Linked DNA regions of Homo sapiens. The protein of the gene in region 1 interacts with the protein of each later gene in a pairwise test. Each region holds a gene or a part of one and is shown on either strand. Other genes may lie near its edges.

Evidence for each region. Proteins that work in one complex are often made in the same cells at the same time.
Region 2: the proteins of DEPTOR (region 1) and CCDC110 interact in binary tests that used the Homo sapiens proteins (3 or more experiments, as listed by UniProt).

Annotation. Positions count from the first base shown.
Region 1 is NC_000008.11:119,876,705-119,883,727, forward strand, and holds part of DEPTOR (DEP domain-containing mTOR-interacting protein), read left to right. Parts: intron 1-7,023. UniProt on the Homo sapiens protein: Negative regulator of the mTORC1 and mTORC2 complexes: inhibits the protein kinase activity of MTOR, thereby inactivating both complexes. DEPTOR inhibits mTORC1 and mTORC2 to induce autophagy.
Region 2 is NC_000004.12:185,468,712-185,475,739, reverse strand, and holds the start of CCDC110 (coiled-coil domain-containing protein 110), read left to right. Parts: upstream 1-4,006; 5' UTR 4,007-4,056; coding exon 4,057-4,066; exon of another isoform or gene 4,067-4,309; intron 4,310-4,624; exon of another isoform or gene 4,625-4,690; coding exon 4,691-4,795; intron 4,796-7,028.

The DNA.
Region 1 (7,023 bases):
TAGATGAGTTGCGCTTAGGGTAGTTTCTGATAGATATGTAGTAAGCACCAGGTCAACATTAGCTAAGGTAGAGTTCTGTGACCTTGGACAAGTAAATTCACTTCTCTGAGTCTCTGTTTCCACATTTGAAAAAGACAATGAAGATGAATGTATTTCATGGAGTTGCGAGAATTTGCCCCTGGGCTTCATGTATTAATGAGCATTCAACAAATAGTTCCTGGAATTAATTAGTATTATTGGTCTCTCTGCATCACTGCATGTGACTTCCAGCCAAGCAAGATTGGGCAGGAAGGATTGGGTGGTGGTGAAGAGCGCAGGATATAGAACTAGGCTGCCTGGGTTCTTATTCTGCCTCCACCATTTATTCTGTAACTTTAGGACAATATGTTTAGCCTCTCTGTGTCTCAGTTTCCTCTTCTACGAAATGTTATTCTGATGACACTTCTTCAGGAGCTCTGTGAGGATTAAATGAGATGCTACATGTAAAAGGCTTAGGAAATGTTAGCCACTTAATTCTACTTTGGAAAATTTTAATCATTGCTGTTTTTTATCTCAACTGTTTTGGCACTGTAACTAGCACATAGTAACTACTCAGTAAGTAGTTAAATGAATATCGTAAGTATTCAATATACTTCTGTTAGTACAGAGCAGTATAATAGTCAGAATTTAGGAATTAAAGCGGTCGTATGCCTGGTTTCCTAGTTATTGGAGGGTTGGAAGTTCAGTCATTCTTGTCACTTTCACAAAGAGTTCTTCTGTCTGTAGCTCCCCTCTCACTGCAGGATTGTAAGTGCTTTGCAATGTCCAGGCCTCCTGCCTCTAAGTGCTTCACACACTCTCAGTTCCCCTCTGCTTTCTCTCACTTTGCATTACTTTCTGGGTCATCAGAGATGAGGTAGAGGTGATAAGAGGAAACCAAGGACTGGGATTTGAAATAAAAAATTTAGCCTCTAGGCCCAGTTCTATCAATTTCTTTTTCTTTCTTTAATTGTAGCTATGCCCTCTTGAGCAAGTCACTTAACCTCTCTAGTCCTAAGCATCCTTCCCTACAGAATGGGAATAATATCTTCCCACATAAGATTTGTGGTAGTGGATCAAATAGGGTACAGCATGGGAAGAAACTTTGTAAAATAAATCGATAAAGCAAGAAGAGTGTTGTTATGACTATTGTAACCTCCAGATGTGAAATTGGGGGCTGGCTCCACAATCCTGACGCTTCTTTTTTTGTTTGTGTTTTGTTTTTTGAGATGGAGTTTCACTCTTGTTGCCCAGGCTGGAGTGCAATGGCGCGATCTCGGCTCACCGCAACCTCTGCCTCCGGGTTCAAGAGATTCTCCTGCCTCAACGTCCCAAGTAGCTGGGATTACAGGCACGCCCTATTTTCTATTTTTTAAATTTATTTTTCTTGAAGCACAAGAATCACTTCAACCCAGGAGGCGGAGATTGTGGCTAATTTTGTATTTTATTTATTCATTTAGTTATTTATTTTTAGAAGAGACGAGGTTTCTCCATGTTGGTCAGGCTGGTCTCCAACTCCCGACCTCAGGTGATCCGCTCACCTCAGCCTCCCAAAGTGCTGAGATTACAGGCATGAGCTGCACCTGGCCAATCCTGACACTTTTTTTTTTTTTTTAAGACAGCATCTTCACTTTGTCATCAGGCTGGAGTGCGGTGGCACTATCTCGGCTTACTGCAACCTTCGCCTCCCAGGTTCAAGCGATTCTCCTGCCTCAGCCTCCCGAGTAGGTGGGATTACAGGTGCGTGCCACCACACCCAGTTAATTTTTTTTGTGTGTGTGCTTTTAGTAGAGACAGCGTTTCACCATGTTGGCCAGAATGGTCTCGATCTCTTGACCTCGTGATCCGCCCGCCTCGGCCTCCCAAAGTGCTGTGATTATAGGCGTGAGCCACCATGCCCGGCCAATCCTCACACTTTTTAAAGGGCGGTTGGTTGTATAAGGACAAGAAATTAACTAACAGACCTAAAAATATCTCTTGCTTCCTTTTTCAGCTTAACTGCAGGACCCTTTGTTTAATTTTCTTCATGTTTTTCCCTTGTCATAAAAGATTTTACTTCCTTCTCCCAATGTATTTCAATTTTTGCATCTTAAAGATGCATTTGGGGCCAGGCGCGGTGGCTTAACACCTGTAATCCCAGCACTTTGGGAGGCTGAGGCGGGCGGATCACCTGAGATCGGGAGTTCAAGACCAGCCTTACCAACATGGAGAAACCCCATCTCTACTAAAAATACAAAATTAGCCAGGCGTGGTGGCACATGCCTGTAATGTCAGCTACTCGAGAGTCTAAGGCAGGAGAATTGCTTGAACCTGGGAGGCAGAGGTTGTAGTGAGCCGAGATCGCGCCAATGCACTCCAGCCTGGGCAACAAGAGCAAAACTCGGTCTCAAAAAAAAAAATGCATTTGGATACTACTTCACAGCCTCCAGGATGGGTATAACAAAAAAGACAGTCACAAGTGTTTGTGAGGATGTGGAGAAATTGTGGAGAAATTAGAACCCCTACACACTACTTGGTGGGAATGTAAAATGGTACAGCCCCTTTGGAAAAATATTTGGCAGCTCCTCAAATATTAAACATAGAGTTATCATATGACCTAGAAATTCTGCTTTTAGGTATATACCCAGGAGAAATGAGAAAACATGTCTACATAAAAACTTGTACACAGATGTTCATAGCAGTACTATTCATAATAATCAAAAACAGGGCTGAGTGCAGTGGCTCACGCCTATTAATCCCAGCACTTTGGGAGGCTAAGGTGGGTGGATCACCTGAGATCAGGAGTTCCAGACCAGCCTGTACAACATGGAGAAACCCTGTCTCTAATAAAAATACAAAAATTATCTGTGCGTGGTGGTACATGCCTATAGTCCCATCTACTCAGGAGGCGAGGCACAAGAATAGCTTGAACCCAGGAGGCAGAGGTTGCAGTGAGCTGAGATTGCACCATGACACTCCAGCCTGGGTGACAGAGCAAGATTCTGTCTTAAATAAATAAATAATCAAGGGCCGGGCACGGGGACTCATGCCTGTAACCAGCACTTTGGGAGGCCGAGGTGGGTGGATCACCTGAGGTTGGGAGTTCAAGACCAGCCTGACCAACATGGAGAAACCCTGTCTCTACTAAAAATACAAAATTAGCCGGGCATGGTGGCTCATGCCTGTAATCCCAGGACTTTGGTAGGCTGAGGCGAGTGGATCACGAGGTCAGGCATTCAAGACCAGCCTGGCCAAGATGGTGAAACCTCGTCTCTACTAAAAATACAAAAATTAGCTGGGCACGGTGGCAGGCACCTATAGTCCCAGCTACTTGGGAGGCTGAGGCAGAAAAATTGCTTGAACCCAGATGGCAGAGGTTGCAGTGAGCCGAGATTGCGCCACTGCACTCCAGCCTGGGTGACAGAGCGGGACTCCGTCTCAAAATAAAATAAAATAAAATAAAATAAAATAAAATAAAATAAAATAAAGAAGCCCAACAATATCACTATTCTCTTTCTAGCAATGGTAGCAATTATAATAATAACAATAACACTTACATGGCACCTATTACCTGGTAAGGACTCTTCTAAGCACTTTATGTATGGTAATGCCTTTAATCTTTATAGCAACTCTATGTAGCAGATACCTTTATTACTTTTATTTTGTAGATTAAAAAATTGAGGAAAAGATCATTTAAACCAACAGGCCATAGATTATTCAGCCAGAAAGTTACGGTAGAGTTGAGTGTTTCTGCTCTTAAGCACTATGATAAGCTACAATACTGTTCCCAACTAGTGACTTAGAGGGTTAAAAAAAATGAAACACTAAAACAACTTTAAAACAGAATCATGTATATGAGAATATCACATTGCAGTGTGACAACTTTGGTAAATAAAAAAGTAGACAAGTAGCTTTTCCATTCTGTTGGGGAAAATCTGATTTATTCCTGTGAGTATTTATATTTTGACAAGGTAGGATTGTCACTTTCTCTACTAAATATTAAACTCAATCTTTCTGACATGTGGTTTTAAAAAGTGAATTTGGACTCCACTGATTCAGAATTTGTAACCATTTTAATGGGAAGATAAATTGCAGTTCTATTTTGCCATCTGTGAGAATGGGAGTAGGGTAAGGAAGAGAATTCAGAATGTATAATAAAGGGAATGCTTAAATAGAGAGAAAATGCATCAATCATTAATTTCACTTTAATTCATTTAATTTCATTAATTCATAATTAATTTCACTTTTGCTCCTCTACCAAGATGAAGTGTGCTGATTACAACAATCTTATCCAATCACTAAGGCTGACTTCCCAAAAGCAACTTACTAGGCTATGAATTTAGTTAGCTAAGTTGGAGGAAATGCAGTTCTTTCAAATTGTTTGTCACCTTTGCCTTTTTTCTATAACAGGCTGCCTTTCAGGCTCTTACAGGCTTACTATTGTCTTTTTAATAAAAACGTCTTTAATAAATATTGAATTGCTTTCCTAAATTTGCTTTGCAAATGTTAATGCAGTTTTCAGAAAAAAGGTAAAAACAGGCCAGGTGTGGTGGGTCAGGCCTGTAATCCTGGCACTCTGGGAGGCCGAGGTGGGCAGATCACTTGAGGTCAGAAGTTCCAGACCAGCCTGGCCAACATAGTGAAATCCCGTCTCTGCTAAAATTACAAAAAAATTAGCTGGGGGTGGTGGTGCGTGCTTGCAGTCCCAGCTACTCTGGAGGCTGAGGCAGGAGAATCGCTTGAACCAGGAAGGCAGAGGTTGCAGTGAGCTGAGATGGCACCACTGAACTCCAGCCTGGGAGACACAGTGAGACTCTGTCTCAAAAAAAATAATAAAAAAAAAAAAGGTAAAATGGGCCTTTGAACCAAAGATCAAGCTCTAATAAATCGAATATGAGATAAGGAATTTAGAGCATACACAACAGGACAAGGAGAAATAATTCATTTTATTCAAGTAGGCACCTAAGGAACTTTACGGTTGGTATAAGAATATCTTAGGGGGTGTCCCTTAGAAGCTAGGATTGAAATTTTCTTCTCCTAAACAGCAGAGAGATATCCTGGAGTCAGTAAATTACTGCCTATACAGATTTTTGAAAAAGAAGGGCTTTAGGAAATGAAGAGTCCCTGTATTTGGAGTCAATGGTCAAGAGCCTAATTCATGTAGAATGTTTATTCTATTTTTATTTATTTATTTATTTATTTATTTTTGAGATAGGGTCTCACTCTGTCACCCAGGTGGTGTGCAGTGGTGCAATCGCGGCTCACTGCAACCTCTGCCTCCCAGGTTCGAGTGATTGTCCCGCCTCAGCGTCCTGAGTAGCTGGGATTACAGGCAAGCGCCACCACGCCCGGCTAATTTTTTAATTTTTAGTAGAGATGAGGTTTCTCCACGTTGGCCAGGCTTGTCTCGAACTCCTGACCTCAGGTTTTCTACCCGCCTTGGCCTCCCAAAATGCTGGGATTACAGGGATGAGCCACTGCGCTCGGCCTTGTAATTACTTTTCTAAAAGGCCATTGCTGATATAAGTTATGGCTTCCATCAGCTTTGGAATCAATAAAACTGAAAATAAGTTAAACCTCAAGAGAAGAGAATGCAAGGTGAAGGAAGGTCATTCTTCTGTCCTGTTGTGTTATTTCTTTTTTAATTTTTTAAATTTTAGAAAAAAATACATTGTTTTATATCTTTTTTTATTATTTATTTTTATTTTTATTTTTTTAGACAGTGTCTCACTCTTGTTGCCCAGGTGCAGTGGCATGATCCTGGCTCACTTCAACCTCTGGGTCCTGGGCTCTTGTGATCCTTCCACCTCAACCTCCCAAGTATCTGAGACTCAAGTATCTGAGACTCAGGCATGTACCACCACACCTGGCTAATTTTTGTATTTTTTGTAGAGATGGGGTCTTGCCATGTTGCGCAGGCTGATCTCAAACTCCTGGACTCCAGCAATCCTCCCACCTCAGCCTCCCAAAGTGCTGATATTAGAGGCCATCAGCACCAGCTTCTTGTCCTGTTCTTTCTAGCTTTCATTTGAGTCAGGAGTTCATTTCCCCTTCATTGGTGGCTCTTAAATGGTTGGTTTCCATGAGTTTAGTGATTAGGAAATGACAAAGGAAAGAACAATCGGTCCTACTTTCTACACGGTAATTATACTTTTCCGTGTTCCATTATCTACCAAGGAGAGGTGGGTACCAAATCTGAGATCCTTGTTCTAGTATTATCAGCCTTAACTAAACTTAGAAGTTTATGGCAGTGATTGTTTCTATGTATCATTAGATACACGGGGGACATCGTGAAGATGGAGTTGGGGAGAGGATTTAGTGGGACAGATAGGATGCTTGCAAGGTGGTACCTTCAGGATCAACTTGAGCTATTTTCATCAGGGCTGGCTGCAGAGAATCACTTTTTGGTAGCTTTACAAATATTTGTGAGGTTGGGTGGGGAGATGAGGAGAGAAAACACACCCTGCAGTGTGAGACAAGATATGCTTTAGGGCCGGGCGCGGTGGCTCACCCCTGTAATCCCAGCACTTTGGGAGGCCGAGGCGGGCGGATCACGAGGTCAGGAGATCAAGACCATCCTGGCTAACACGGTGAAACCCCGTCTCTACTAAAAATACAAAAACATTAGCCGGGTGTGGTGGCAGACGCCTGTAGTCCCAGCTACTCAGGAGACTGAGGCAGGAGAATGGCGTGAACCCGGGAGGTGGAGGTTGCAGTTAGCCGAGATCGCGCCACTGCACTCCAGCCTGGGCGACAGAGCGAGACTCGTCTTAAAAAAAAAAAAAAAAAAAAAAAGAAGGATATGCTTTAGTATTCCCACTTTTCAGATAACAGCTGTTGCTAGGGTGTAGCAAAAGGGAACAAATGTCATGGCCTCTAGCTTGGGGAAGCCCGTGGCAGCTGCAGAGGAGGAGGTAGGTAGCAGCTGAGGGAGGCTCAAGGCTCAAGTCTTTCCACCTATAACTCTCAGGCTGCTACTTATAGATCTGTTTGACTGTGTTTGTTTGCTTTGATCCTTGTGTCCTC
Region 2 (7,028 bases), on another chromosome or scaffold:
GGTTTCACCGTGTTAGCCAGCCAGGATGGTCTTGATCTCCTGACCTCTTGATCCGCCTGCCTCGGCCTCCCAAACCATAGTGCTGGGATTATAGGTGTGAGCCACTGCGCCCAGCCTTTTTTTTTTTTTTTTTTTTTTTTGAGACGGAGTTTTGCTCTGTCGCCCAGGCTCAAGTGCAGTGGCACGATCTTGGCTCACAGCAACCTCCACCTCCCGGATTCAAGCAATTCTCCTGCCTCAGCCTCCCGAGTGAGTAGCTGGGATTAGAGGCACCCACCAGCATGCCCAGCTAATTTTTTGTATTTGTAGTAGAGATGGGGTTTCTCCATGTTGGACAGGCTGGTCTCAAACTCCGCACCTCAGGTGATCCACCTGCCTCAGCCTCCCAAAGTGCTGGGATCACAGGCGTGAGCTACCGTGCCCGGCCGAGAAATTTTCATTTTATAGGCCATCTAAACACGCACTCACTGAGATGCCCAAACAATTTTTTTATTTTTAGAAGCTTGGCAAGTTCATCAAAGTTCACACACAATATAAACTAGACAACACATTCTACTATCTCTTTAAAATATACATTTTTTCTAATATTTGAGCTACAATAATTGAATCTTTTTCCACTGAAGTGTCAAGTTTTTTCAAAGAAGAACCACAGGAAAAAAAAATTTCAAAAGTGTTTATGGAATCCCACCCTAGACGGGGCTCTAGACCTGCCATTCACTGTCAGCCCCGTATGTGACCACTCTGCTTTCTCCTGGAGTAGGCCCTTCACCTGGGATTTCACTCATCCTCACTACTGGCTCACAGTTGTACAGATAAGGAAACTCCTTTTCAGAGAGGCCCATCATTCGGTCAGCCACGGAGTTCAAAATGCAGGTAGTTTCAAGCGCAGGTGAAAATGGTTTTAAGTGGCCATGGGTGATCAAATAAGATTTCTCCCTCAACATACATTTCACACTGCAGTGAATGTCCCTAAAGGGCTGTGACCACCTCCCACCCCCATTTTTTTAGAGACATGTCAATGCTCTAATTACCACTTCCAGATTCTCCCACCTCGAATACCAGGGTTGGCGCACGCAATGTTCATGTGAGGCCCTTCACGAGGGGGTTCATCTGAGAGGGTGATATTCAAATCATAGGCATCTTTATTATTGAAAACAGTTTTTAAAATATTATAACTGTTGGCTCCAAAGACAGCCTTTTTACATATTAATTGCAATAATTTTCTGACAAAATTTTTGTTTTAACTGAGAATATATATGTGATGTGCTTTACAAAAGAGAAATGAGTGTGATAATCAAAAGGCCTTATAGGACATCTAAAATAAAGTGTCCTTCTAACTAAAGAGCTGCTTTTCTGACTGATGAATGGATTAGGAAGTAGCTTAAAATGGAAGTAACTCTCTATTGAGATTAGTGCACTGGCTAAATCTGAGTTTGATGTTGTAGCATCTATCACCTGCTTTTTATATTCTACACTAAATGGTATGACTGAGTGCTCCCACAAAAATCCACAAGTAATTTCTATGTAATAACCGATATTAATTTGTCATCATAGTCCACAAATATTACATAGACAAATTAGAGTTATTACACATTATTACATAAATTATCAAATGATTAGATATTAATAATTAGCATTACATAAAATACAATATAGTAATTAATTGTGGAAACTTCAGTAGTATAAAAACAGACTTGCTAAAATGTAGTGGCTTTTTGTCATTCACCCTTTGAAGGAATGCAATTTATTTACAGTAGTAATTTCACAAACATATTGCTGAAAACTTGTGTAGCTCTCAGGAAAAAAATTAACTTTATCAATGAAGCAGCCTCATTGTGTGGGCTGACACCAAGGTTTGCTGTCTCACAGGGAGATCAAGGATGCAGACACACAAAGAGTGAGGTTAAGAGCCGAAATGTAATAGGCGACAAGAAAGGGAATAAGCTCTCCGCTACAGAAAGGGGTCCCCGGGTTGCCAATTCGCTGTGAAATATTTTTTATAGAATTTTATAGATGAGCTAATGGGGAGGCAGTCTGATCTACATAGGGCGTGAAAAACCAGTTAGGACCAGGTGTGCCATCTGCATAGGGCATGAATCTCTGGCAGCCCCCACCCCAATCTTTTACTACGCAGGTGGGTTCTCTGACTGAGCTTTTCCATATCGCCCATCTCTTTCTTACTGTACACGTGCTAACAAAAAAGGGGAGATGGAGATTCCATGGTGGACATGCCTGGCCCCCAGGTAGCCCTTTTCTATCAGCGCAGCTGCTGGCATCCACCCGCACGCTGCCCCCCAACCCCCTGCGCCCTGGTGTGCACGCTTCCAGCTTCCTGATCTATCTTTGCAAGGTTTGCAGGCTTTCAGGCTGCTCTTTGTTAGAAAAAAAAATGATTTCTTGAGCTGTTTTTTGTTAGAAGTTCTGCTGAAGACTCTTTTGCCCTATCTGCCTAAATAATTTCTATCTCCTGAATCATCAATATCAATCAGCAATGCAGACCATAAATTCTCAAAATTATAATTTATTAAAATTGTCTACAATGCCACAAGAAAGTCAAATCTTCTAGAGCCCATTTTTTTCTTTCTTTCTTTCTTTTTTTTTTTTTTTTTTTTGAGACAGAGTGTCGCTCTGTGGCCCAGGCTGGAGTGCAGTTGCACTATGTCGACTCACTGCAGCCTCTGCCTCCTGGGTTCAAGTGATTCTCCTGCCTCAGCCTCCCGAGTAGCTGGGATTACGAATGTACTCCACCATACCTGGCTAATTTTGGTATTTTTAGTAGAGACAAGGTTTCACCATGTTGGTCAGGCTGGTCTCGGACTCCTGACCTCAGGTGATCCACCCGCCTCGGCCTCCCAAAGTGCTGGGATTACAGGTGTGAGCCATCATGCCGGACCTAGAGCCCATTTCTTTTCTTTTTTTTTTTTTTGTTTGTTTTTTTTTGTTTTTTTGAGACGGAGTCTGGCTCTGTTGCCCAGGCTGGAGCACAGTGGCGCCATCTCGGCTCACTGCAACCTCCGCCTCCTGGGTTCAAGCGATTCTCCTGCCTCAGCCTCCTGAGTAGCTGAGATTACAGGCGCGTGCACTAGAGCCCATTTCTATAAGAAACAAATTAGAGGAAGTAAGCACTGAAACTATCATAAGAAGTTTCATTTCAATGAAAGCAAGCCATCATGTATTACTTATTATATATTATATGTTATTATATAGCAAATTATGATATCCTGGTGATTGTGATTTTGAATTTTAATTTTCTATGTGTGATGGTTTACTACAAAATAAATAATATATACTCGTTTAAAACTTTAAAGAGCACCATTTTCTGATGGGCAGGAGGATTAGCTGGGGGCACGCACCCAGTCCTTGGTTAAAGGAGGTCAGGTTTCCCGTGAACGCAACATCAATCCTGCACGTGATACACCAGGTGCGTAAAAATTAACATGCTTAGACAAAGGAAGCCCACCGTCGCTTCCCACAGCTTTCATGAGCATATTTTAATACATGTTTAGGTTAATTCATTATTGAAAAATAGGAGTCTTCTTTTCATTGCAGCAAACAAAAGTCCTTTCACAATATTGGTCATGGGCCGTTCAAATCCCCAAATGCTGAAACTCCTCTGAGGGATGCGCTGAAATGAGAGGACTAAGAATTAAAAAAAAAAAACAACAGCGATGAAGTGGAGATGTGGAAAGGCAAAGGGAAAGCTCTCAGGCGTGTGTCCGTCCCCGGGCGGTCCCTTTCTCCGCACCGCTTTGGTCCGGCGGGTACCGCAGCGAGTCCGAGTGTGAGCAAGCCCGTCCCGGACAGCCGCGCGCGTGTGCGGGGAGGCGCCCAGGTGGGCTGTCCCAGGCCAGGTTCCCAGGGAAGCTCTCGGGGAAGCGTCCGGAGTGAGGAGGGACCCACCGGGACCCCACCAGGGACCCCAGCCGAGCGCGCGCCGCCGAGGGTGGGGGTGGGGCCGGCGCCCCGGCCACCCGGTTACCTGGCGACAGGATGCCCTGCGCGGGGCGGCGGAGCGGGTGCGTGCGGCGGCGGTTGCGAGAGAGATGAGCCGCGGCGATGAGCCCGGGTAAGAGTTGGACGGGGCGGGGCTCCTAGGGGAGCCGCGGGAACGGAGGGCAGCAGAAGGGCATTCAGCAGGCGGCTCCCCGCTCGAAAACCCGGGACATCCCGGGTCCGCCCTTCTGCACTCGCCGCACATCTCCCGCTCGGCCCTAGGGCTGAGCACCCGCTGCGGCCCCCTGCGTCCGCTGTGGCTTACAGGCTGGCTACGTGGTCTGCCGCCGCCGCCCGCCCAGCGCGCCCTCGGGTGGCCGCTTGCGGAAAGCGCCGCGCCCCGCCCCAGGCCCGGCCTGATGCCGTCCCTCCGCCCCATCCCTCCGCCCCGCCCCAGCCTTCAGCCTTGACCCCGCCCCATTCCTCTGCCCCCACAGGTCCCGCCCAGTCTCTCCGCCCCATCCCATCCCTGCGCCCCGCCCCAGCCTTCAAACCCGCCCCCTCCTAATTCCCTCCGCCCCGCCCTCCCCGCCCTCCCCGCCCCCCCGCCCCAGCCTTCAGCCCCGCCCCCTCCTAATTCCCTCCGCCCCGCCCCAGCCGTTAGCCCTGCCCCGCCCCATCCCTCTGCCCCGCCCCCACCTTCAGCCCCGCCACGCCACGACCCGCGACAGAACAGCCCCGGACGGTTCTGTTACAGAAAAGCAGCACCGGGAAGAGGATGAAGTTGACTCCGTTCTCCTTTCAGCGTCCAAGATCCTAAATTCTTCGGAGGGGGTGAAGGAAAGTGGCTGCAGTGACACAGGTAAAATCGCCAGACCGTAAAAGGCTCCTTTAACTATACACAGGCGGCAGCATCTGGCCTGTGCCACCTGCTCACCTGGCGTGCTTCCCACGGCCGTGATGACACGGACAGCAGCCACCACGGCACTCGCGCTTTGTGCCAGTGCTGTTCTAAGCACGTAATGGATCAACTGTTTAATTCTCACAACACTTTTACGAGGTGGGTGCTACCACGATCCCCATTTTGCAGATAAGGAAACGGGCACAGAGAGGTTAACTCCCTAAGGTCACACAGGCAGCGAGGAATGGAGCGGGCATTCAGCAGGGCGGCTCCGGACTGCCTGTCTTCACCACCACGCTACGCTCCGTTGCTTCTCTGAATGCTAAGTAAGAATTGTTGAGTTTTTTGGACACACACTAAAACGATATGCAGTCAGCCCTCGGTATCTGGGAGTTCCGCATCCTTGGATTCAACCAACCACAGATGGAAAATATTCAGGGGGGAAAATTTTTAAAAATAACAGTACCACAATTTTTAAATGCAAATTTTGAACAGTATAACAGCCATTTACATAGCATTTACATTGTATAAGGTATTACAAGTAATCGAGAGATGATTTAAAGTATACAGCAGGATACACATAGAAGCTATGCAAATACTACCCCATTTTGTATTAGGGACTTGGGCATCTGCAGATTTTGCTATCCGCAGAGGCTCTGGAACCAATCCCCTGTGGATATCCAGGGAGGGGTGTATACCTTTTCTAAAGAAAACTACTTTTTATAGTAAATATTTACGGACTACAGGATATTATATGGGGAGGATGTTTGAAATAGCCACATAGCTAAAGCTTTCAAGCACCACATAAATTATGAATAAGATGGGGGTACCCAGCTAGGGGAATCTGAGGACATTGAAGGTGGAGTCCCAGGCGACTGACTACACGCCTCTCAGAGGAGCCTGCTGTGAGGGGACATGCCGGGGAAGGAGCAGAGCACGGGGCAGGAGAAGGGTCTAGACTGATGTGCCATGCCCGGACCCCCAGTTGCCCCTCTGTAGGATATGGGCAATCCTGATGCCAAAGTGCTGAACCACAAGAGGACTGAGGTTGGGACAGGATTTCTGCACCTCCACCATGCAAGATCTTCACAAAAAGCCTTGTCAGGGCCCGGAAAGAAGAGACTAGAGCAGCCACACCTCAGTAGACAGAAGACACCCGGGTGCCCAGGCACTACCAGGATGAGCAACACCCCAGTGGAGGCCAGCAGGACAGGCACTGGCCAGTCCCCTCTCCGCCCTCCTGCCTCCACCCTTGAGATATGCAGGTTTCCCTGGGCAACCAGGAGGGGCAAAGGGGCCCCCTGAACGAAGGAGAAAGAGTCCTCACAGAGAGTTGAGACATTGAGGTAGCTCCGTATTTACCTCAAAGAGAGCATGTAAGGTCAGAAGAAATAGAAGTACCTTAATTTGGCAAGATCACATGTTTTTTGACATGAATGAGGCTTAGGGTTCTGGAGAAAGATGCCAACATTTATAGAAAATAGTTACATGCAAAATAGCACATGTACATGTTTAAGAGTTACAGTCTTTCTTGCCAGAACACAGTGTTTACAGGTCTGGGGTTGACACAGGACAGGTTCTTAATAAACACCAGTTATCTTGAGTCAGGGGCCACCCAGGAATTTCCTGCCTGCAACTATAGGCAAAACTAGGAGGTATGGCTGGCGCCCTTCTCTCTACTCTCCTACTGATGCTTTCATTGTCACCAAGTGATCCATTCCCCGTGTACTGAGAAAATAATGACCTGATTTGCATAACTACTGCCAGGTTACAAAGAGTTATAGAATGTTCCCAAGGTGTCTCTGATTTCAGAACTAGTGGTTAACCTAATTAACCCTTATTGGAATGGGTTTGTGAGAGACTTTTGAATTTGAGGGTGTCCAGGGTGTTGTTCCCAGCACCCTGTTGTACCCGAGCTTTCATTCATTCATTCGTTTGTGGAGCATATTCTTTTGAGCACCTGCTAAGTTTCAAGTGCTGTTCTAGGTGCTGGGGATCCAACAGTGAACAAGACTTGCAAGATTCCCTGCCCACATGGAGCTTACCTTCTAGTGAGGGAACAGACAGACAAAGGCTATTGTGTGTAAGCGGGGAATAAATTCTATGGAGAACATAAGGCTGAGAAGGGGGGGAGGAATATTTGGAGTGGCAGAGGTGGGTGGGAAGTGTGTCATTTTAAACAGGGTGGTAGGAG